Homo sapiens: one gene and its partners. The protein of the gene in region 1 purifies or fractionates together with the protein of each later gene. This does not show direct contact. Each region holds a gene or a part of one and is shown in the gene's direction. Other genes may lie near its edges.

Region 1 (4,120 bases):
TTCGGCCTTCAGAATAGCCGGCAGCTCCCACCCCTTTTGCGTTCTGCCGGGTTAGGTCCTCCAAGCCTCTCTCTGTACGGCCTCTCTGTAGCCTCTTCTATACACTCGCTGCGCTGCCGTCCGGTCCTAAGTAGCCAAACCGGAGGCTCGATCTTTTGCTTCGGTCCAGCTACCTCCGACAGGCGGGGAGCCAATCTCCACTTTTCCCACCCCGGTCCTCGGTACAGGGCCGAGAAACCTCGGCCGCGACCCGAGACCACCACCCCCGCTCGCCCCTTCGTTCCCTCTTAGGAGAGATCTGCTTCTGTCCCCATTCTCCGTGGGATCATCTCCATTACTCAGCTTGGTTTTGGTGCCTCTGAGCCAAGGGGGCCCCGTTCACCCTTCTCTGCGCTGCCGCCAGGACACCGCAGGCACCTGCCCGGTTGCGCCTGGGAGCCTGTGAAAAAGAGCTCTGCCTGACCGGTTAGAGCTCTGCCTGACCGGTTGCAGCTCGGCATCCCAGCAGTTGCCAAAAGAGAGCCTTTGTGGTTCACCTCTTGCTGCCTTGACCTTGCATTGACAGCACCCCTCCCTCCCCCACAACGACTGGGCAACCGACTGGCTGTGGGCCCAAGGCCCTGTGCCAGAGAGATATGTTCACCCCCTTGGAAACCCGTAAGAGCTGCCCTCAAGGTGTCTTTCTAATGAGGCCTGTGGGGTCAAGAAAGGAACTAAACTGTGCCTTCCCGGGGCTCGAAGGCCAAGAGCTTTTCTTTCTCCTTTGGGGTTAGGGAAAGGATGGGGAGACAAGGATGGGGAAGTGGGCCTTATAACAGGATTGTGGCCTTTGCGCACTCACCAAATGTTTGACCCTGTGAGTGCCTCAGTTGCTACTGTTGGAGGAATGGGCAAGAGTCGGAACAGAGACCCTTGAAGGGAGTTTCAAAGCTTGATGAAATTTGCAAGACTTGAGAATGCTGTTTGTTGAAATGAAATGTACAGGGGTGTGTGTGTGTGTGTGTGTGTGTGTTTGGGGAGGGGTATGCTATGAATCTTTGAGGGTACATTCTTGAGAAAGCCTTCCCTCTCTCTCTATCCGGTGCCATGGCTGATCCTGGTTCCCCCTACTCTCTAGGCCTTGTGAATCAGATTAATCATCACCCCCACCCCCATCTCCACCATGGGGTCTCGCGCCCCCTGCCAGCAGGCTCCAGATGCACTAAGAGACCGGTCCAAACAGGCCCGGGGGCCACGTAATGCTGAGTGCTGATTGGCTGCTCTTGGCTCCTCCCCTCATCCCGCTTTTGGCCCAAGAGCGTGGTGCAGATTCACCCGCGCGAGGTAGGCGCTCTGGTGCTTGCCGAGGACGCTTCCTTCCTCAGATGCACCGATCTTCCCGATACTGCCTTTGGAGCGGCTAGATTGCTAGCCTTGGCTGCTCCATTGGCCTGCCTTGCCCCTTACCTGCCGATTGCATATGAACTCTTCTTCTGTCTGTACATCGTTGTCGTCGGAGTCGTCGCGATCGTCGTGGCGCTCGTGTGATGGCCTTCGTCCGTTTAGAGTAGTGTAGTTAGTTAGGGGCCAACGAAGAAGAAAGAAGACGCGATTAGTGCAGAGATGCTGGAGGTGGTCAGTTACTAAGCTAGAGTAAGATAGCGGAGCGAAAAGAGCCAAACCTAGCCGGGGGGCGCACGGTCACCCAAAGGAGGTCGACTCGCCGGCGCTTCCTATCGCGCCGAGCTCCCTCCATTCCTCTCCCTCCGCCGAGGCGCGAGGTTGCGGCGCGCAGCGCAGCGCAGCTCAGCGCACCGACTGCCGCGGGCTCCGCTGGGCGATTGCAGCCGAGTCCGTTTCTCGTCTAGCTGCCGCCGCGGCGACCGCTGCCTGGTCTTCCTCCCGGACGCTAGTGGTAAGTTGGAGCCCCGGGCGGCATTGCTAGCCGAGACCCCAACGATTTAGGCGGGGGATGGGGTGGGGAGCGGGGACAGGTCCCGGATGGCTGCAGCCTGCAGGACCGCACTGGCCCTAGCGGAGGTTGGGGGGAGGGACTCTGAACGCGCAAATCGCGAGGAGACTGAGTCTCTGGAAGAAGAGAGGAGCTTAGGTTCCACGGAAGGAGCATAGAAGTCTCTAAGGGGATTGGGAGCGGGGGCTCGAGATGAAGACGCTGGGCGGAGGCGGGGGTCTAGAGAACCTGGCGCGGGGGAAGCCGAGACAGAAACGGAAGGCGGGGGTGGGGTCTCAAGAAGTGAGGAGTGGGAGGAGAGAAAGGAGGGAAACTGAACGCAATGTCGCTGAGTAGAGGGTCGGGCTGCGGAAGATGCAACTGAGTTGCAGGACCGACTACAATTTTAAGAAATCCGACAGCAGGCAAGTGGGAGGGGGCGCAAGGTTTGGGACAGTGTGTGCAGAGGGGGAACCAAGGATCCTTTATTATGTTCTCATTGAAAAGCGACCCTAATTTTTCTGGCGGGTCTCAGCGAACATCCGTAACTCTGGGGAGATAACACACTGCGGATCTGTGTTTGGTCTAACAGCTGTTAGCTGAATTTGAACAGCGCTGCTGGTGATCACGTAAGCTTAAGAGGAGAGGATAAAGGCATCCAGTGAACCTTTTTTTAAATAATTAATTAGCTTATCTAAGTCATTTGGTTACTGTTCTATATTTTGAAAAGGATTGCGAAAAAGTCTCCAGCGCTGCCTCTTATTCCTGTACTCAGTTTTACCTGACAAGCAGTCTTTACAGCGTTCCTCGGAATTGCTAAACATGAGAACAGGTTGCCGTTCCTGATGTCACATAAAGTTCGTCATTGCAAAACGTGTCTGTGTGTCTGTTTCTTTTCTGCGCCATGCCCTTTGCCTTTTGCTTCCTGTTGGGTAGTATGCGACTTGAGGTGACAAACACTTGCATTGTGTTTGAGAACCCTGTATTTTAAGCAACAGAGCTCCCCAACTCATAATTCAGCGAGTGACATTCGGCAGTTAAAAGATTTGGTCTGGAATCACTGCCAGTACCGCGCAGCTTCTTCATTAATATTACCAGTATAAGTCCCATCCAAGGAAGCCTCTGATTGCTGAGCCACTAAGTGCATATGCCCCTTACCTCATACCTTTTAGGCAGGCTAACCGAGGGACGCTCATATATGGTTGAGCTAAGATGATTTGGGGGGCGGGGGGTGAGGAAATGCGGCGCACTGAGTAACCTCTGAGCTCCCCAGTTTGCAGACAATTGCGACCTCACATACACGGTAATGAAAAAAGATATCTGGGCTCCAGAGTTTAAATTTTTCATGAAGAAGTTTACGTACATATCAGCCATTCTGACAATCAAAATATGAGTGCAATAGAAACAAGGTGTTACTGTGTAGTTGGCTACATATGTGTAGAGACAATGACAAAGGCCAACTGACATGCCCCACAGAAAATGATATCTACCGTGATCATTGCATCTCTTTTGCAGTACTGAAATCATACTGAATATTGTCTGTTCTGAAGAGTATAATCTCCTTAGCACCTGGCTGTTTGGGAATCATCTACAATGCCCCCCCATTCCACCCCACAGGTGGGGGGAAATAAATAATTTTGTCCATATTTTGGGGAGGTAGGTTATAGAATATTTAATTATATTTTTCATTCCTTAAATAAATTCTCCTGATCCTCCTGGGGAGGGAAGAAAATATTTGTTTCATCAACATGATTTCTTTCCTAATAGCGTCTATCATCTACAGCAACAAGCCCAACGCAAGTCCTGAAATTCGGAAGGTGGATAAGGCTTGTTGATTGCAATGTCAAGGTAGGATTTGGGGTGCTTTAGCAAAAATGACGGTGTTTTTCTATCTGCATTATCTAGAGAGGGTTATTAACCCTTTCTATGCTTTCTTGAGGGGTTTATCTCCATCTAGAGGTGTCATGGATGACAGTGATGACTTTTTCAGATAATGTAACAGGCTTTTGTGCAGTATGAATTCATCAGAAAAGAGGTGAGAACTGATATTTCTGGGAACCTCCTGGATGCCAGACGTGGATCCAGGACTATTACATATATATACATAAAATATATATTATTTCATATAGTCTTCATAGCAAGTCTATGAATGACGGAGATATTATTATCCTCCATTTTATCGGTGCCATT
Region 2 (3,500 bases), on another chromosome or scaffold:
CCTTTAAACATTAACCATTATGTACGAATCTGTCAGTTTTTTGTCAGTATGCATCAGGAATTCTAAGTGCTACCTATGACCCTGTCACTTCATCTTCTTGTCCTCAAAATTCTTCATCCACAGGAGGATGCTGGTAATAGTGACTCAAGATTCAGAAGTGCCACCTATATTGATCTTTTTCTTTAGCTCCAGGCAAGTTGCTGTTGTGGCCCTACTTCCAATGACTTGAGAATTTCCTCAAAATAAGTTTTCTGACTTGTAACCAGAAGGAGGTTATCAGTTCAGTTTTTAAACAAGGAAATAACTTCTAGTCTCTGTTTGGCTTTTAACAGATACGTCAGTATGTTGTACAGGTGATCTTCTCCGTGACGTTTGCATTTTCTTGCACCATGTTTGAGCTCATCATCTTTGAAATCTTAGGAGTATTGAATAGCAGGTGAGTAAGAGTACTGAAAACTCCTCTTGAAGAGTTCTGTGCTACATTCTTTACAGTGGAAAAGCTATTGGATCTCATAACTGAAAAAAAAAACACTGTGTTAATAGTTCAGTTTCAGTAACTGCAATGATCACAACAGATATGGGTCACAGCCACCTAATAGCTGGTTTGATAAAGATTATGAGATACCAGGAAACAAAAGATCTGACCGTTAACTCTGAAGAACTCATTGGAGTGAGGCTGTGAAGCTGCAGTCTAGGCTTCACTCCTAGAAGCTTTATTTTTCCAGGACTGCTCGCTGACTGAATCCCAGTAACAGCCCTTCACATTGTTCTGCTGATTGAAAATCTCTACCTGAAAAGATTAGAATTCCTCAGAGCTACTTTAATGATCTCTCTGAAGACTGAAACTCCAGTTCTTACTTAACTTAGTTATTTTTATTGATTTTACAGTCATGGTCAAGTTTGGTTGAATTTAAAGTGTTTCTTAAAACACTTTTTAAAAATAACTCTTTACTCCCCTCCAAATAATAGACTTGTTAGTTTATTAGACAGTCTATTCAAAATATTTCTTGCTTGTTAATCTGCAAGCTTGAGTATGTTTTTAGGCCAGCATTTATATGTAGGGTTCATCAACTATGCTATGCAGACTTTGTTGTGCTTTTTTATCACCACCTGGAAAAACCTTTTAGGAGTAAAGCAGTCTTTCACTCTAAAGTTAGGATTCAGTGCCAAGGTAAGTTCATTATAGACCCCTGGCACTTGAGACTTGTAGAGAGACTATACTCTCAAATCCTTTGATAATCAGAGTTGAAAACGAAATTTAAATTAAAAAGAAAAACTTACTATACAGATGGTTAATCACAAAACATTGAAAGGTTAAAAAAAAAAAAAGAAGAGAGAGGGGCCAGACATAGTGGCTCACGCCTATAATCCTAGCACTTTGGGAGGCTGAGGCAGGAGGATCACTTAAGTGCAGGGGTTCAAGACGAGCCTGGGCAACAAAGTGAGACCCTGTCTCTACAAAAAAATAAAAAAAATTAGCAGAGTGTGGTAGTACACGTCTGTAGTGCCAGCTACCCTGGAGGCTGAAGCAGGAGGATCCCTTGAGCCCAGGAGTTTGAGGATATGCAGTGAGCTGTGATCACTGGACAAGACAATGAGACCCCATCTCTTAAAAAAAAGAGTGAGAGAGAGAGAATCAGAGTTGATAATAATGGTCTCTTGATAGAACAATGAATAACATGTATTATGGTAAAATAGAAGTGTTTTCTGATTCTCCTGCTTTTAAACTTTAATAATCCAAACCTTGGCCGGGCACGGTGGCTCACGCCTGTAATCCCAGCACTTTGGGAGGCCAAGGCAGGCGGATCACGAGGTCAGGAGATCAAGACCATCCTGGCTAACATGGTGAAACCCCGTCTCTACTAAAAATACAAAAAATTAGCTGGGCGTGGTGGTGGGCGCCTGTAGTCCCAGCTACTTGGGGGGCTGAGGCAGGAGAATGGCCTGAACCCAGGAGGCAGAGCTTGCAGTGAGCCGAGATTGTGCCACTGCACTCCAGCCTGGGCGACAGAGCAAGACTCCATCTCAAAAAAATAAATAAATAAAAAATAATCCAAACCTTTTCTTGGATGAGCTAGATATAGATCCTGTGACTATAGAGAATAGACAGGTATTATTTTACATAATGGTTATTAAATTTTATTATCACAACCTGCATCTTTCACTGCTATTTAAGCAGGGGTTGGCAGGCTTTCTTCTGTAAAGGGCCAGATAATAAATATTTTAGGTTTCTGTGGACCAGAAGGTTTCTATCACAAGTACTCAGCTCTGCTGTTGTAGAGAGAAAACAGTCATAGGCAATATATAAACAAACGAGCATGGCCATGCTCCAATAAACTTAATTTGTAAAAGCAGGTGGCTGTGAGGCCATAGTTTGCCAGCTACTCATCTAAATATTGATACAGAGGATTCAGATATTCTAAAGCTATATTTACTGTTTTTGGTAGATGATGTCCCCCAACTTTTAACTTATAGTTAATAACCCGTATAGTAAGAAACATCTGTCATACTATGGTGTATGTTTCCTAAATTTCTTAATTAGTTAAAGAGGATAAGAAGTAGCATTGCTAAAATCTGGTTTTTCTTTGTGTGCTATATAGAGGATTGGGTCTGAGACATATCTTCAGTTATACCTGTTTTTTCATGCTAATGTTTCACCCAATTATGGAACACAAATATGAACCTTGATGATGTATAACTGTCCATTGACTGGACTCAGAATCGTTTTGAAAAGAGAATCTTGGCCAGAATATTCCTTTGACTCACCTTTGAGCAGAGATCATATGACTTCCTATTCAAATATGTAATCTTGTTGGGATGCTTAGTTTTTTCAAGAGAATATCACTTTACTCTCAGCTCAAAAGACTAGTTAAAACATGTGGTTCACTTTTAATAGGCAGTCCATACTGCCAATTAAAGTTGCACTTGTTATTTCAAACCCACTGCTTCCCAAAATCTTTCAGAAGCTTAGCTGAAATACTATGTAGTATTGCCTGGAGGATGTCCAGCTTGTTTCTTTCTCTAAATGTTCTAAAGTAGTTGTTAACCTAGAGGAGCAAAAAGCTGTCAATGTATCTAGTCTAAATGGTATTCACTCCCTGTAGGGTAGCTTTTACTGAATGGCTCTTTGTTTCGTGATGCCTGCCATCTGTACTAAGGAAGGAACAATAAGAAACAGCCCTCTGAAACATATTTCTCTTGAAAGGATGTTGTTGATGACACTGTTAATTGCCTTTGCATTTTCTTTATGAAATCTTTGAAGAAATTTCATTGTAATCTTGTTAATAATTCAGTAACAATAAATGATAATTATGCTTCCTTTGAGGAATTAATTTTTATTTTCTTACAGACATGATGATTTTATCTAACTGATCAAATTTTTTATTTCACATTGACCATTAGAAAACTTAAAGCTAAATTTATGACCTACCCATAGCAACTTTCTAGAATTCTGTTTTATAATAGCCATCAGGCTTGGCCCAATATTTTACCTGTTACCA
Region 3 (3,500 bases), on another chromosome or scaffold:
TTCTGTCCTTTAAGCTGATATATCCTTTTTTTTCTTCTTTCTAGATATCTCTGAGATGTCTTTTGTTCAGAACAAAACTAATTCATTATCTTTTCCATTCAAACCTGGTATTTCACCAAAATTCTCCATTTGTTCAAATCTAGCTGTCATTATTAACTTCTCCCTTTCTTTTGCCACCAGACTTCCTGTCAGTCACTAAATCAGACAGGTGTACCTTAGACACTTTTTTTATTTCTCATTCCCACTACTGTTGTCTAAATGACCATCATCTCATCTAGACTGCTGGGAGAGGCCTGATATAGTAATGTTAAGAACAAGGGCTCGGCAGGGCATGGTGGCTCACGCCTGCAATCCCAGCACTTTGGGAGGTCGAGGTGGGTGGATCACCTGAGGTCAGGAGCTCGAGACTAGCCTGGCCAACATGGTGAAACCCCATCTCTACTAAAAATACAAAAATTAGCCGGGTGTGGTAGCACATGCCTGAAGTCCCACCTACTTGGGAGGCTGAGGCAGGAGAAGCACTTGAACCCCAGAGGTGGAGGTTGCAGTGAACCAAGATTGCACCACTGCACTCCAGCCTGGCAATAGAGTGAGACTCCGTCTCCAAAAAAAAGAACAAGGGCTCGGCAGGGCATGGTGGCTCACGCCCGTAATCCCAGCACTTTGGGAGGCCGAGGTGGCTGGATCACCTGAGATCAGGAGTTTGAGACCAGCCTGGCCAACCTGGTGAAACCCCGTCTCTACTAAAAATACAAACAATTAGCTCGGTGTAGTGGCGGGTGTCTGTAATCCCAGCTATTTGGGAGGCTGAGGCAGGAGAATCACTTGAACCCAGGAGGCAGAGGTTGCAGTGAGCCGAGATTGTGCCATTGCACTCCAGCATGGGAGACAAGAACAAGACTCTGTCTCAAAAAGAAAAAAGAACAAGGGCTCTGGATTAAGACGACCACTTATGAGCTGGGTGAATTTAGGCAAGCTATAACTTGTGTACCTCATTTTTCTACATCCGAAAAATGGGGATCATAATTATATATAGATGCTTCTCAACTTAGGGTGGGGTTATATCCTGATAAACCCATCATAAATTGAAAGTACCATAAATTGAGAGCCAGGCACAGTGGCTCATGCCTGTAAATGTAGCTACATGGGAGGCTGAGGTGGGAGGGATCATATGAGGCCCAGAGTTCGAGACCAGCCTGGGCAACATAATGAAACCCCTGTGTCTTAAAAAAAAAAGTTTTTTTTTAAATTAGCAGTGTGTGGTGGTATGTGCTTGTAGTCCCAGCTACTGGGGAGGTTGAAGTGGGAGGATTGCTTGAGCTCAGGAGTTCGAGGCTGCAGTGAGCTATGATCACTCCACTGTATTCCAGCCTGGACAAAAGAGTGAAACCCTGTCTCTTAGAAAAGGAAATAGAAGTTGGAAATAAATTTAATACACCTAACCTACCAAACATGGTAGTTTAGCCTAGCCTACCTTAAAGGTGCTCAGAACACTTAATTTATTAGCGTACAATAGGGCAAAATCATCTAACATAAGGCCTACAAGTGTTGAATATCTCATGTAATTCGTTGAATACTGTACTGAAGGTGAAAAACAGAATGTTTGTATGGGTAAAGTTTCTACTGAATATGTGTTGCTTTTGAACCATTGTAAAGCCAAAAAGCTTAAGCGAAACTACAGTAAGTCCATGACCAGCTCTATTTACCTTGAAGTGCTGTTAGGCACATTAAAGAAGACAATTCCTATAGAGTGTTTAGCCAGTGTGTAGCAGAACACTTCATAAATGTTAACTATTACTACATTATAGCAGCCTCTGAAATGATCTCCCTGTATCTATTGCCAACTGCTAGTCAAGGCTCAGGTATCTTTTAGAACAGGCGTCCCTGTGGCCTGTTAGGAACTGGGCCGCACAGCAGGAGGTGAGTGGTGGGCAACTGAGTGAAGTTTTATCTGTATTTGCAGCCACTCCCCATCGCTAACATTACCTCCTGAGCTCCGTCTAATTAGCGACAGCATTAGATTCTCATGCGAGTGTGAACCCTGTTATGAACTGCCCATGCGAGGGATCTGTGTTGTGTACTTCTTATGAGAATCTAATGTCTGATGATCTGTTACTGCCTCCCATCTCACCCCCGATGGGACTGTCAAACACCTTTTTATAACATTTACCAGTCTTGCAATTATTTGTCTTCACTACTTATCTATGAACAGCTGACAGTGGCCCATATTCATCACTATATCCTCAGCTTAACAGGGTGTATGGCTGGCACATAGATAGCCAGTAAACATTTGTTTTATTGAACTTAACTTCTCTTGGTCTGAATTTCTTCATTTTTGATATGGCAGTAATCCTCACTTCTCAGTGGATCAAATAACAATACATGTCAAAGTATTGTGGAAATTTTGAGCTATAAAGACAAAGTTTTGGCCGAGCACAGTGGCTCACACCTGTAATCCCAGCACTTTGGGAGGCCGAGGTGGGCGGATCACGAGGTCAGGAGATTGAGACCATCCTGGCTAACACGGTGAAACCCTGTCTCTACTAAAAATACAAAAAAAAAAAAAAAAAATTAGCCGGGTGTGATGGTGGGTGCCTGTAGGGAGGCTGAGGCAGGAGAATGGCATGAACCCGGGAGGCGGAGCTGGCAGTGAGCTGAGATCGCGCCACTGCATGCTAGCCTGGGCGACAGAGCGAGACTCCATCTCAAATAGACAAACAAACAAACAAAAAAACCCCAAAGTTTTAAAACAGCATGAAAGAAATTCAAAATTAGGATTGGACCATTTCAAAACCATTGCTAAAATGTAAGCTTCATTAGAGAAAGGACTTTTTCTGCTTTGTGCACTCCTGTATCCCTTAGATTCTAGAACAGGGTCAATCAGTATTTGTGGAAGGGAAGCAGTATATCATAAAACTAAAAGAATTGAAAAAGTAGAAAGTAGTCACACTTCTATTTCAGATACCCATTCCTATAGCTATGTTCTTTGTAATTGTTCGTCTCCAAAATCAAAACCCTATGCATCGCTCTAAGTCTTTCCAGTTTACTTTCATTACACCTGTTCTTCAACAGCATGTCTAGATAAATAGCATGCATCACTTTATTGTCCATAAATCAGTCTTTGATAATACAGGTTGCTTTTTATCAGGTAGGCCAAAAGAGAAAAATGTAATAACACAGGTTGCATGGTCTATCATGTCAAACATTCTTACCCTTATCCTAAATTCCCTTGTACCACTGTGTCTTGGGGCGTGCTCCTGGCATAATTTAAACTTGGATACATCCAACTACCATTTCAGTAGGAGGGGAGAGCAAAGGATGAGTGTGGATGGAGGTTAGTTTGTATGTCTGGAGGAAGTGATTAGTAGTTTTAGTCTTTTGGCTTCTAAGTACTACTGGAGAAAATCACAAATAGTATGTTGCCATTAAAAAGTCATCATTAATCTTAACCATGCTTTCAATATTCCTCTGCAATCCTGCCATATTTTGCCACACCTTTT
Region 4 (2,443 bases), on another chromosome or scaffold:
GGAATGCTTTTTTTTTTTTCTTTCACTTATATAAGGGATAATTTTTCTTTTTTTTTTTTTTTTGAGACGGAGTCTCACTCTTCCGCCCAGGCTGCAGTGCAGTGGCATGATCTTGGCTTACTGCAACCTCCGCCTCCTGGGTTCAAGCAATTCTGTGGCTTCAGCCTCCGGAGTAGCTGGGATTACAGGCACATGCCACCACACCCAGTGAATTTTTGTATTTTTAGTAGAGACGGGGTTTCACCATGTTGGCCAGGCTGGTCTTGAATTCCTGACCTCAGGTGATCTGCCCACCTCAGCCTCCCAAAGTGCTGGGATTACAGGCGTGAGCCACCACACCAGGCCCGAGAAATGCTTTTTTAAAAAACACACATCTTATGGCATTCACCTTCTTGGAGCTCTAGGACAGTGGTTCTCAAAATTTTTTTCTCTCAGGACCTCTTAAAAATCATCAAGGACCCCAAAAAGCTTTTGGGTATGTGGGTTATAGCTATCAATATTTATGGTACTAGAACTTAAAAGTGAGAAAAATTTAAAACACGAGAATACATAGGCACACATTCTATTCATCGTGGGAACCATGGTGTCAATACATATCATGTAGCTTCTGAAAAACTCCACTGTACACTTATAGAATGAAGAAGGCAAAAAACTTTTTTTTTTTTTTTTTTGAGACGGAGTCTCGCTCTGTCGCCCAGGCTGGAGTGCAGTGGCGCGATCTCGGCTCACTGCAAGCTCCGCCTCTCGGGTTCACGCCATTCTCCTGCCTCAGCCTCCCAAGTAGCTCGGACTACAGGCGTCCTCCACCATGCCTGGCTAATATTTTGTATTTTTTAGTAGAGACGGGGTTTCACCGTGTTAGCCAGGATGGTCTCGATCTCCTAACCTGGTGATCCGCCCGCCTCGGCCTCCCAAAGTATTGGGATTACCCGCGTGAGCCACCGCGCCCGGCTGCAAATAATCTTTCTTTTTTTCTGAGACAGAGTCTCGCTCTGTTGCCCAGGCTGGAGTGCAGTGGCACGATCTCGGCTCACGGCACGCTCCGCCTCCCGGGTTCACGCCATTCTCCTGCCTCAGCTTCCCGAGTAGCTGGGACTACAGGGGCCCGCCACCACGCCCGGCTAACTTTTTGTGTTTTTAGTAGAGACGGGGTTTCACCGTGTTAGCCAGGATGGTCTCGATCTCCTGACCTTGTGATCTGCCCGCCTCGGCCTCCCAAAGTGCTGGGATTACAGGCGTGAGCCACCGCGCCCGGCGGCGAAACACGATATTGTACTAACATCTTAATTTTGTTATAAAATCTCACAAACCCCCTGACATAGTCTCAGAGATCTGTAGGGCCGAGGTTACATTTGGAGAACCCGTACTCTAGGGCCAAATCCATTCTTCTTGCCCTGGCTCACTTGTCCCCCCCACCGCCCCGCGCTGGAGCCACTGCCTAGTTCTTCAGCCCTAGATGGTGCTCGCCAGACCTCCTCTCAATGCTCATCACACACAGGGCTATTCCTTTCCTCCAATGAACCAAACGCCTCCCGCCCACCTCCAGGTCCCAGTCCTCTGTTCCCTTTGCCTGGTCCACCCTTGCCCTCCCTGGGTCGCAGACGAGGTCGGCCTCGTCATTCCCCGCAGACCGCCGCGCGTCCCTCTTGTGCGGTTCACCACAGTTGTATTTAAGTGATCGTGTGAGTCGTCGTTAAATGCCTGTCTCCCCGCGGATCATGGGCTCCTCGAGGACAGGGACTGGCCTGTCTGTCCACTGCTGTAACCCCGCGCCGGCATAGGGACCTAAGGCCCACTGGAGGGCGCTCATCAAGTAGCTGCTGGATGTTGACGAAGGAAGCGGCGGCGCAGCTCAGGGATCTCCGAGTCAGGACGGTCGGCCAGACCCACGGGGTAACGGGTCTAATCGTGTAGGAATAAAGCTGTATTCCAGTGCTTCCAAACGGTTCTCTCATTCCAACCCCTTTCCAAGCTCAATGAATATTCCAATCACCTCTGGTCCCTTCCAGTGACCCTGAACCGCTCAGAGAACGCCCCGTCGACACCGTTCGGGGCGGGCGCCACTACTGGCGCATGAGATGCGCTCAAGCAGAGGGTACTCCACCAGCGAGGATACACCGAGCCGACGGGGATCTCGGTCTCGGCGCCGGAAGCCTCTGAGAGCCGAATCTGGAACCGGATGTGGCTGCTTCCTGCCCCGCCCCCTGCCGAGGGGGCGGGAATCGAGGGCCCTTCGGAAAACCCGGCCGGGATTTCGGTCAGCTACATTCGTGGGTTGTGGTAGGGAGGGTAATCCCGTGGGGATGGAGTGACCGGCTCTCTCTCCGCCTGAAACGCTTCCCGCGGGAGTTTTAGCCGTGTTATTGTTGGGGAAGGGAATGTCAAATTCTGCTCCTGCCTTCCCCCAGGGGCTGGAGACTGGAATCTTTATTCCAGTTCATTG
Region 5 (3,500 bases), on another chromosome or scaffold:
GCAATGCAGTGAGGTAGGTTCTATTATTATCTCCATTTACAGGTAAAGAAACTGAGGGTAGAGCATGTAAGTAATTTTCCTGTATGGTTGAACTGGGATTAGAACATTGGTCGCTTAGCTTCAGAGCCCTGTGTGGTTTCCATACTGCTAGATAGAAAGTTAGGTGAACTATTATGGGTGTCAGTTTGCCCGTTTTACATCCGGCTCTCTGCTTCAGGCTTGCCTTAGTCCATATGCATATTTTGATGTATTTGTTTGCTCTTGCTCAAAATTGTGTTATGAAAATTAAGGTGAATACTTAAATGCTATTCTAATCATTATGAAAATTGTTGGGCACCACTTGGACTTTTTTCTTGGATTTACCCTAATAACTTGAGTTGTTTCTGTGGAATTACAGTTGTAGTAAAAGGATGTTTTCATCATAGTGACTTTTTTTCTGCAGCCCAGTTGCAGTATCTTGAATATGAAAGAGAAATCTTGAATTACTGCCTCATTCAAAGCTCTGAATAAGGAACTTTTTTCAGAAGTTTGCTGCAAAATAATTTGCCGACTTGTACTGACAGGAGGCTACTGAATAATCTTTATCTCACTTAATAAATAGTTATGTTCTGTCTTGGAATATTAATTTGTTTGGTTATTGGTGCACTTTAGACCCCATAGGGTCTGTTTGAGTGTAAACGCTGTGTTACTTTTCTAAAATCTGAAAAATTCTTTTTTTTTTTTTTTGATTTTTTTTTTTTTTTTAATTGATCATTCTTGGGTGTTTCTCACAGAGGGGGATTTGGCAGGGTCATAGGACAATAGTGGAGGGAGGGTCAGCAGATAAACAAGTGAACAGAGGTCTCTGGTTTTCCTAGGCAGAGGACCCTGCGGCCTTCCGCAGTGTTTGTGTCCCTGGGTACTTGAGATTAGGGAGTGGTGATGACTCTTAACGAGCATGCTGCCTTCAAGCATCTGTTTAACAAAGCACATCTTGCACCGCCCTTAATCCATTTAACCCTGAGTGGACACAGCACATGTTTCAGAGAGCACAGGGTTGGGGGTAGGGTCACCGATCAACAGGATCCCAAGGCAGAAGAATTTTTCCTAGTACAGAACAAAATGAAAAGTCTCCCGTGTCTACCTCTTTCTACACAGACATGGCAACCATCCGATTTCCCAATCCTTTCCCTGCCTTTCCCCTCTTTCTATTCCACAAAACCGCCATTGTCATCATGGCCCGTTCTCAATGAGCTGTTGGGTACACCTCCCAGACGGGGTGGTGGCCGGGCAGAGGGGCTCCTCACGTCCCAGTAGGGGCGGCTGAGGAGAGGCGCCCCTCACCTCCCGGACCGGGCGGCTGGCCGGGCGGGGGGCTGACCCCCCCACCTCCCTCCCGGACGGGGCGGCTGGCCGGGCGGGGGGCTCACACCCCCACCTCCCTCCCGGACGGGGCGGCTGGCCGGGCGGGGGGCTGAACCCCCCACCTCCCTCCCGGACAGGGCGGCTGGCCGGGCAGGGGGCTGACCCCCCACCTCCCTCCCGGACGGGGCGGCTGGCCGGGCAGAGGGGCTCCTCACTTGCCAGTAGGGGCGGCCGGGCAGAGGCGCCCCTCACCTCCCGGACGGGGCGGCTGGCCGGGCGGGGGGCTGACCCCCCCACCTCCCTCCCGGACGGGGCGGCTGGCCGGGCGGGGGGCTGACCCCCCACCTCCCTCCCGGACGGGGCGGCTGGCCGGGCAGAGGGGCTCCTCACTTCCCAGTAGGGGCGGCCGGGCAGAGGTGCCCCTCACCTCCCGGACGGGGCGGCTGGCCGGGCGGGGGGCTGACCCCCCCACCTCCTTCCCGGACGGGGCAAATCTGAAAAATTCTGAAGCACATTTGTTCTTAAGGATTTTAAGTAAAAGATGAGGACCCCCGTAGTACAGTTTTGGGGAAACACAACAGCATATATAAGTATTTTTATTTTTTGAGATGGAGCCTTGCTCTGTCACCCAGGCTGAAGTGCAGTGGCGTGATCTCGGCTCACTGCAACCTCTGCTTCCCGTGTTCAAACGATTCTCGTGCCTCAGCCTCCTGAGTAGCTAGGAAAACTGGCGCGAGCCACCATGCCTGGCTTATTTTTGTATTTTTAGTAGAGATGGGGTTTCACCATGTTGGCCAGGCTGGTCTCGAACTTCTGACCTCAATTGATCCACCTGCCTCGGCGTCCCAAAGTCCTGGGATTACAGGCGTGAGCCACTGTTCCCTGGCCACAGCAGCATATTTTAATACTTGTTTTTGAGGCTTAGTTTATTTAGTTTTCCTGTGAAACAGTTAAGTAGCCAAATACAAAAATGTAGGCATGCGTTTGAATTTCAGACTTCTGACAGTATTTTCAGAGATAGCATGTGCATGAAAGCATGAAAAGGTTTGCTCTGGCAGTTACACAACCTTAAAGTTCAGTTTAAGTAATTTTTTTTTTGTTTGTTTTGGCATGAAGTCTCGCTCTGTTGCCCAGGCTCCAGTGCAATAGCAAGATCTTGGCTCACTGCAACCTCCACCTCCCAGATTCAAGCAGTTCTCCCACCTCGGCCTCCCAAGTAGCTGGTATTACAGGTGCCTGCCACTACGCCCGGCTAATTTTTGTATTTTTAGTAGAGACAGAGTTTCACCATGTTGGCCAGGCTGGTTTCCAACTCCTGACCTCAAGGGATCTGCCCACCTCGGCCTCCCAAAGTGCTGGGATTACAGCTGTGAGCCACTGTGCCCGGCCCAGTTTAACTAATCTTTATTGAGGTTTTTTTTTGTGTGTTTTCTGCAACACATTTGGGACTTTCAATTTTTAAGGTTGACAGTCGTTTCAGCATGGCTGTTTTGGAATTAGTGGGCTCTTGAATACACCAGAAAGCATAGCACCATTTCACAGCTTGTAAAGTCTGCGGTTTGAAAAATGGAAATAGTTCGTTTATTGGCATATTTGACATGTTAATTGAACGTACCTGTTATCTAAAACATTATTAATGGAATACTTTTGCCTTGATTTCTGCTTAACATGTTTAGCTAAGCGTACTTATAATTAATACCCCTTTTAGTAGTTATTTGTTTTACTCTCTTGGTTTGCAAATTGGCTGAATAAAATGAATATTTCTTCAGACAATTAAGGACAAAAGCTCTGTATGCAATGATAACACGGAGGGCTTAGATTTCCTTGGCATAGTGATTCTTAACCCTGGCTACACATTAGAATCACTTCGGGAACTTTTTTTTTTTTTTTTTGAGATGGAGTCTCGCTCTGTCACCCAAGCTGGAGTGGAGTGGCGCGGTCTCAGCTCACTGCAAGGTCTGCCTCCTGGGTTCACCCCATTCTCCTGCCTCAGCCTCCCGAGTATCTGGGACCACAGGCGCCCACCACCACGCCTGGCTAATTTTTTGTATTTTTAGTAGAGACGGGGTTAGCCAGGATGGTCTTGATCTCCTGACCTCATGATCCGCCTGCCTCAGCCTCCCAAAGTGCTGGGATTACAGGCTTGAGCCACCGCG
Region 6 (3,500 bases), on another chromosome or scaffold:
ACAGGAATCATGTATTTATAGTTGCCATGGGGTACAGAGTCAAAACGAGGTATGCAAGCAGCTCCTGGGCTTATAATTTTCTTTTTTGTTAAAATTGTTTGCATCCAGTTATATCAGGCCAGTCAAGGCTGTATCATAAATATCATAAAGGCCTCATTAAGGTATTTGGATAATTCTCAGCCAAGCACGGTGGCTCATGCCTGTAGTCCCAGCACTTTGGGAGGCCGAGGCGGGAGGATCACCTCAGGTCAGGAGTTGGAGACCAGCCTGGCCAACATGATGAAACCGCTCTACTAAAATACAAAACTTTAACTGGGCGTGGTGGTGGAGATGCCTGTAATCCCAGCTACTCGGGAGGCTGAGGCAGGAGAATCGCTTGAACCCAGGAGGTGGGGATTGCAGTGATCTGAGGTTGTGCCATTGCACTCCAGCCTGGGCAACAAGAGCAAAACTCCATCTCAAAATAATAATAATAATAATTGAGTACTATTCTATTATTTTCTTCCCAGTTACAAGCATTTAAGTTTGATTAATATATGTATGTAGTACAGAATTCAAAAGTTATTAGAGGACAGAAACTGGAAAGCCTCCCTCCTTTCTCCGACACCCAGTTCCTCTCCCAGAGTCAAGTTACTGTTGCACCAGTTACTTGTGTATCCTTCCAGAGAGATTCTCCATGTATAAGAGAGCGTGTGTATGCGGGCATGCGTGCGTGTGTGTAAGGCAAATGGTAGAATACCATCCACACAATTCTACACCTTGCCATCATCTAACATGTATCTTTCTTCAAACACCTTTGCATGGTAGGAGCTGATTCTCTTAAGTTACAGGTCTCTGATACGGATTAATTTCATATGCACACAAAGATCTATAGCGATACAAGAGTTAAATTAAATATTCTTTTAAATGACCTAGCTGTAGGTTTCACTTGGAGGGAAAAACAAAAAAAACAAAAACTAGCTGTACAAAGTCCAATGCATGTTCTTCTAACAGATTTTCATAGTTCCTCATAGTAAAATCTTACTTAATTTGACCACATTAAACTATAGGAGCTCAAACCAAACAAAAACAAGAGAGACTGAGAGAGAAGAACAAGTGGTGTTTTCTATACTGAAGGAAAACTCTCCACATTACTCCACCCAGTATCCATTGCTGGAGCGAGGGTAGCCTGGGAGGTGGGAATCTGCCCCTCTCTCTCAGCTGCTGAGGTTCCAGGTGTCTTTCAGGATTTTTTGAGGGTAAACGTGAAGATATTTGCTTTCTACACTGGCAAATAAGATAATTCCATTGTGTTATATTCAGTGTATTCTTCATATATTTTATCCTCCTTTTCAGACACAACATTAAGTCCAAGAATTGAACTCTTAAAAGATCAGGCCAGGCGCGGTGGCTCACACCTGTAATCCCAGCACTTTGGGAGGCCGAGGCGGGTGGATCACCTGAGGTTGGGAGTTCGAGACCAGCCTGGCCAACATAGCGAAACCCTGTCTCTACTAAAAATACAAAAATTAGCCAGGCGTGGTGGCAGGCACCTGTAATCCCAGCTACTCGGGAGGCTGAGGCAGGAGAATCGCTTGAACCCGGGAGGCGGAGGTTGTGGTGAGCCAAGATCGCGCCATTGCACTCCAGCCTGGGCAACAAGAGTGAAACTCCGTTTCAAAAAAAATCAAAAGAGAGTCACTTTTAACTAAATACAAGTTTTTGTGTCAACATCCATTCAAGTGTTGGTCCCCAGTTCTTTAGACATCTGTTTTACATTCCGTCAAGTTCCTAAGAGGTGCTGTGTGTTTAATGGTACATGTTTTTTAAGTTCTAAATTAATCTTTAAAAATTAAGTAATTAAATATTCAGAAACCCATATGTGGTTACTGAGCTGTCTCTGCCACCCTTTCAACATTGATCAGTTAACAGGTGTACCTTTCAAGTACTCCCTGGCTGTGCATTCATTGGCTGGAATGATCCCATGAAAGCTGTGCCCAGCCATGCCCAGGACAGGATATAGTCAGGATATGGGCAGTGCTAGTCCCATTCCCATTCCAGGGCAGGACGGGACAAGCACTGGAGTACAGAGGCAGCTCGTCAGTGTGAGCAGACCAGATGATGGCTGTAGCTTTGTATTTGTCTCCTAGCCTCCTAAACCTGGAAGAGATCTGGATGGTAAACGGGGAGGGGACTTTCCCCAACTTTTGCAAGCATTCTGGCTCCCATCAGCCCAGCAAGATGTCCTGTGGGGTGGGAGTGAGAGGGCTGCTGTTGCTCATGCCCACCCCCACCCATTCCCCTGAGTAGAGGCAGGGGGCAGAGCCAGGCAGGGAGTCCACAGCCAGGGTCCCAGGTGAGCAGGACCCCAAGTCTCTCACTGCTTCCAAGCCCTACCTAAGCTCTAGGTAACCCTGGCAGCCCTGGTTCCACAAGCTGCCATCTCTCAGCTCTGGGCCATTTCTCACTGAGAGTCTGGTCCAGGTACCCCCGGTCCCATCCCCAGGCAGCACACAGAGGTTATTTCACTTGAAACAAACTCCCTGTGTGCCTGTGCTATAGTGAAAGCACTCAGATATGTTTCTCTTGGTTCTGCTGGTTATTTGTGGTCACTGAGGCCAGCACATTTATTAACTGCAAAGATCACAGGAAAACTGCCCCAAGCTGAGTCCTGGAGAAATAATGGAAAGTTTCTGAATTGTGGGAAAATATAACTAAGCACTTTGATTTTAAATAAATTCCCATTTCATGTCTATTCTTGACATCATCTTTTTTTTTTTAAGGTTCAGGAATGTGACATGCTGCTAGGTTAAGAATGCTTTTGTGTATCCTGAGGGTCTTGATGATATTTATGTAGAAATCGCCTACCACACGTTACTGTCACAACAGTAATTTTGAAAATGTATTCACCTAATGACATGTGCTCAGTTACTTCCAGGGATTGGTAGTCTGAATTGGCCTTGCCTATGTAATGGGTTTGGATGGTTACTGCTGGGGGAAGAGGGCCATTACAATACCTCTGGGCTGTCCAGCTTGCTTGGGGCCCATACTCGTATCCCATCTGTGGCCTTCGTATCACCTAATATTGGCATTCGGAGAAATGGAGAATCAAAATGACTTGAAAAGTAGTGTCATTGTTATTTATTTTGGAGTAACAGAATGTTTTCTTATCAGAATGAATTTGATAAAGGATAATCGCTTATATTTGGAGATGATATTCTTTTTTTTTCTTTTATTTGAGATGGAGTCTTACTCTGTTGCCCAGGCTGGAGTACAGTAGCACGATCTTGGCTCACTGCAATTTCTGCCCCCCAAGTTCAAGCAATTCTCCTGTCTCAGCCTCCCAAGTAGCTGGGATTACAGGTGCCTGCCAATGCGCCCAGCTAATTTTTGTATTTTTATAGAGACGGGTTTCACCATGTTGGTCAGGCTGGTCTTGAACTCCTGACCTTGTGATCCACCCGCCTCGACCTCCCAAAGTGCTGGGATTACAGGCATGAGCCACCGTGCCCGTCCTAGAG
Region 7 (3,500 bases), on another chromosome or scaffold:
TTTTAATGAGATTTACAATGTTACTTTTTCTAACCTATTACTCTTACATAAGAACTACCTTTTGCTTATCCTCTTACTCTACCTTTTTAATGGCAGTAAAGTATTCTACCATATGATATATAATCCATCAGGCTCACCCTCACTTGTTGGACTGTTAGCTTAACAGTGACTTTTATTAACGGTGGATAATTGCAGCCCCTAAAATTTAAAGCACCTTCTCAGAAAATTTTATTTCAAAGCTTCTCTGAGGGTAAAGTAAAAGTCCTCATGATTCAAAAAGATTTTTCCATTAAACACTTGACCATTTTAACATTTCTAAATTTTTACATGCTGCCTGTCCCTCAAAAATCTAGCTTTTTGAAAAAATTTCAAAAAGGTATAGCATATCTAGAAAAATGTGCATTTGGGTTGATACAGACAGGAAAATCTAGATGCTTCTTTAACATAAGGTAGGCAACTTGTCTCTGCAAAGATCTGGTCTCAGACTCTGGATTTCCCATCTGTGCTCTGCAGTTTGTTTATTCATTCACTGGCTCTATCCACCTTTAAAGTGCTCACGAGAACACATGATATGCCGGTCACTACACTAAGGTTGTATCAACATAGAAGTCAGAGTTTCAGAAGTCAGAGTTTCAGCTTACTGAAAGCTTATAGTGTAACTAAAGTACTTCCAGATACATGCTATATTAGATAAGGGTCAGAGGATAGCACTAGGACACAGAGGAGGGCCCCCAAACCCAGCCTTGGAGGTGGGAGTTGTCAGGTAAGTGCCACAAATGCCCAATTACAGCTGAGGCTGCTTCCTCCCTGTTTTCTATAGAATCCTGTGAAGCAGCTCCAGCTATGTGTGAAGAAGAGGACAGCACTGCCTTGGTGTGTGACAATGGCTCTGGGCTCTGTAAGGCCGGCTTTGCTGGGGACGATGCTCCCAGGGCTGTTTTCCCATCCATTGTGGGACGTCCCAGACATCAGGTGAGGAAAATTATGATTGGAACATAACAGGACACAGATTAGGTTCCTCTGTGTTCATGTTTATCCCCAGATTGTCTATCTCTTTCTGCCCAGAAGTTATGTAACCTTGTTACAAATAGACCTCTAATGATTAAGGTCCAGGAGTAAATGCCAATTTCACATATAATGTAGACAGATTATCTGATGGGCATCTATCAGATACAAAGTCTGCCCCTTTTTCATGTCCTTTTTGTCTAAATATAGTCATTATCATCATCATCATCATCATCAAATCATTTCATCACCATCAGAAATGCTTATACATTATCCTGATGTATACCAAAGCTACTGTTTGGAAAGAAACTAAAATAAAAGTCCAGGTCACTTAACCATACAGGGCTGATGTTAGATGAAAGCAAGCATCGATACCAAATGCAATTTTACATAATATTACCTGTCAACAAAATATATTTGGACAGCCGCATGGTAATTTTACACATTATGTGTAAACAAAGTATTGGTGGCATCACATGGTAAAAACTCAGTAATTTCACCTCAGAAATTCTTCTTCACATCAGAAATGTAGTTTGTGCATTGAGGCTATCTGATTGATGTTTATGCCTCTCTGCTTGGGATATATTCATGAGAATAAATAATAGAAACCTCTCCCAATGAATGCAGTCTGTCTGAATTCATTGATCTTTATGCAGTGGAGATATTCTGCACAAGCCGCTATTTTATGGGTCCATAGTAGCCATGGCTGTTTTGTAGTTCTAAAATAGTCACTGCAGTGCAATTTAAAATCTAGTAACAATAATTTTTTAAGAACTTCACCTTAATGATTTTTTTTAAATGCAGCTGACTAATTTAGGCAAATGTCTTAACAGTTGATTGGTATGAACTTATCCATTAGAAATCAAGCCTCAAGTGGTTATTTGTAGATGCAATGCTTTTGCTTATAATAGTTAGAAAATAATGCTCATATTCTTTTGGGTAGGTGATGACTTTAAAAGTACAGTTTAAAGGATTTATAAGACACAAAATGCCATTTAACAAATATGTAAAATTGTATACATTCTTTCAACAAATAATTATTGAGTGCCACATATGTGCCATGCAATTTGCTATAGTGATGGACAAGACAGACATGATCTCTGCCCTAAAAAAGCTCATCAAGGAACATAGGAGATAAAAATACAAAGTAAAGTTGACTTTCCCCCAACATCTCCTGTTATTTGGAGGCAATTCAGGTCTTTTTCCAATCAACTGCAGAATTTTGCTTAAGAGCATAGTGGCAATGAGACTCAATATGTTTATTGTTGCTGATAATCAGAAGAGGAACTTCCCATCTCAATGACTTAACCTTTTGTGGCTTGGCTGTAATTGATTCACAAGTTTTGGGAGATGCTGACTCATAATGTGTTGAACCTTTTTAGGGGGTGATGGTGGGAATGGGACAAAAAGACAGCTACGTGGGTGACGAAGCACAGAGCAAAAGAGGAATCCTGACCCTGAAGTACCCGATAGAACATGGCATCATCACCAACTGGGACGACATGGAAAAGGTATGGGAGGTTTGCTGCAGCTTGGGCCCTCAGGATGCATAATCCCTGTGTTCTCTGATACAGAACACCACACTACTGCTGGGGAAATAACTGGCTCACATTGCTCAACTGTACTTTTACTTGTTAATGTTCATTCTGGGTTATTACCCATTGAAAAAAAAATCCTTGTAGCCATAAAAAATGATGAGTTCATGTCCTTTGTAGGGACATGGATGAAGCTGGAAACCATCATCCTCAGCAAACTGTCGCAAGGACAAAAAACCAAACACCGCATGTTCTCACTCATAGGTGGGAATTGAACAACGAGAACACATGGACACAGGAAGGGGAACATCACACACCGGGGACTGTTGTGGGGTGGGGGGAGGGGGAGGAATAGCATTAGGAGATATACCTAATGTAAATGACGAGTTAATGGGTGCAGCACACCAACATGGCACATGTATACATATGTAACAAACCTGCACGTTGTGCACATGTACCCTAAAACTTAAAGTATAATAATAATAAAATTTAAAAAAAAAAGAAAAAAAAATCCTAAAATGTTTCTTTAAAAAAAAATCCCTTGCCAGGCATGGTTGCTCACACGTGTAATCCCAACACTTTGGGAGGCCAAGGTGGGAGGATCGCTTGGCCCAGGAGTTTGAGACCAGGCTGGGTAACATAGTAAGATCCTGTCTCTACAAAAAATAAATGAAATTAGCCAGGCATGGTGGCACACACCTCAGTCCCAGCTACTTGAAAGATTGAGGTGGGAGGATCACTTGAGCCTGGGATATGGAGGCTGCAGTGGGCCAAGATCCTACTCCAGCCTAGGTGACAGAGTGAGATCCTATCTCAAAAAAAAGAAGAAAAAAATCCTGCAGGGCACAGTGACTCACACCTGTAATCTCAGCACTGGATCACTTGAGGCCAGGAGTTTGAGACCAGCCTGAGCAACATAGCAAAACCCTGTTTCTACTGAAAAAAAAAAAAAAAAAAAGG

What was found.
Region 2: the proteins of HTR2C (region 1) and GPR89A purify together in Homo sapiens (affinity purification with mass spectrometry, with the first as the bait; 2 studies listed by BioGRID). This does not show direct contact.
Region 3: the proteins of HTR2C (region 1) and PTRH2 purify together in Homo sapiens (co-immunoprecipitation; 3 studies listed by BioGRID and IntAct, with this or other methods). This does not show direct contact.
Region 4: the proteins of HTR2C (region 1) and TAPBP purify together in Homo sapiens (affinity purification with mass spectrometry; 2 studies listed by BioGRID and IntAct, with this or other methods). This does not show direct contact.
Region 5: the proteins of HTR2C (region 1) and SEC63 purify together in Homo sapiens (co-immunoprecipitation; 3 studies listed by BioGRID and IntAct, with this or other methods). This does not show direct contact.
Region 6: the proteins of HTR2C (region 1) and HEATR3 purify together in Homo sapiens (co-immunoprecipitation; 3 studies listed by BioGRID and IntAct, with this or other methods). This does not show direct contact.
Region 7: the proteins of HTR2C (region 1) and ACTA2 purify together in Homo sapiens (affinity purification with mass spectrometry; 2 studies listed by BioGRID and IntAct, with this or other methods). This does not show direct contact.

The regions. Positions count from the first base shown.
Region 1 is NC_000023.11:114,582,766-114,586,885, forward strand, and holds the start of HTR2C (5-hydroxytryptamine receptor 2C isoform a precursor), read left to right. Parts: upstream 1-1,320; 5' UTR 1,321-1,894; intron 1,895-4,120. UniProt on the Homo sapiens protein: G-protein coupled receptor for 5-hydroxytryptamine (serotonin).
Region 2 is NC_000001.11:145,617,988-145,621,487, forward strand, and holds part of GPR89A (Golgi pH regulator A), read left to right. Parts: intron 1-332; coding exon 333-436; intron 437-3,500. UniProt on the Homo sapiens protein: Voltage-gated channel that enables the transfer of anions such as iodide, chloride, bromide and fluoride which may function in counter-ion conductance and participates in Golgi acidification.
Region 3 is NC_000017.11:59,700,931-59,704,430, reverse strand, and holds part of PTRH2 (peptidyl-tRNA hydrolase 2, mitochondrial isoform b precursor), read left to right. Parts: intron 1-3,500. UniProt on the Homo sapiens protein: Peptidyl-tRNA hydrolase which releases tRNAs from the ribosome during protein synthesis. Promotes caspase-independent apoptosis by regulating the function of two transcriptional regulators, AES and TLE1.
Region 4 is NC_000006.12:33,299,194-33,301,636, reverse strand, and holds the end of TAPBP (tapasin isoform 1 precursor), read left to right. Parts: 3' UTR 1-1,943; downstream 1,944-2,443. UniProt on the Homo sapiens protein: Involved in the association of MHC class I with transporter associated with antigen processing (TAP) and in the assembly of MHC class I with peptide (peptide loading).
Region 5 is NC_000006.12:107,951,709-107,955,208, reverse strand, and holds part of SEC63 (translocation protein SEC63 homolog), read left to right. Parts: intron 1-3,500. UniProt on the Homo sapiens protein: Mediates cotranslational and post-translational transport of certain precursor polypeptides across endoplasmic reticulum (ER). Proposed to play an auxiliary role in recognition of precursors with short and apolar signal peptides.
Region 6 is NC_000016.10:50,086,470-50,089,969, forward strand, and holds part of HEATR3 (HEAT repeat-containing protein 3), read left to right. Parts: intron 1-3,500. UniProt on the Homo sapiens protein: Plays a role in ribosome biogenesis and in nuclear import of the 60S ribosomal protein L5/large ribosomal subunit protein uL18 (RPL5). Required for proper erythrocyte maturation.
Region 7 is NC_000010.11:88,946,274-88,949,773, reverse strand, and holds part of ACTA2 (actin, aortic smooth muscle), read left to right. Parts: intron 1-820; 5' UTR 821-843; coding exon 844-972; intron 973-2,387; coding exon 2,388-2,516; intron 2,517-3,500. UniProt on the Homo sapiens protein: Actins are highly conserved proteins that are involved in various types of cell motility and are ubiquitously expressed in all eukaryotic cells.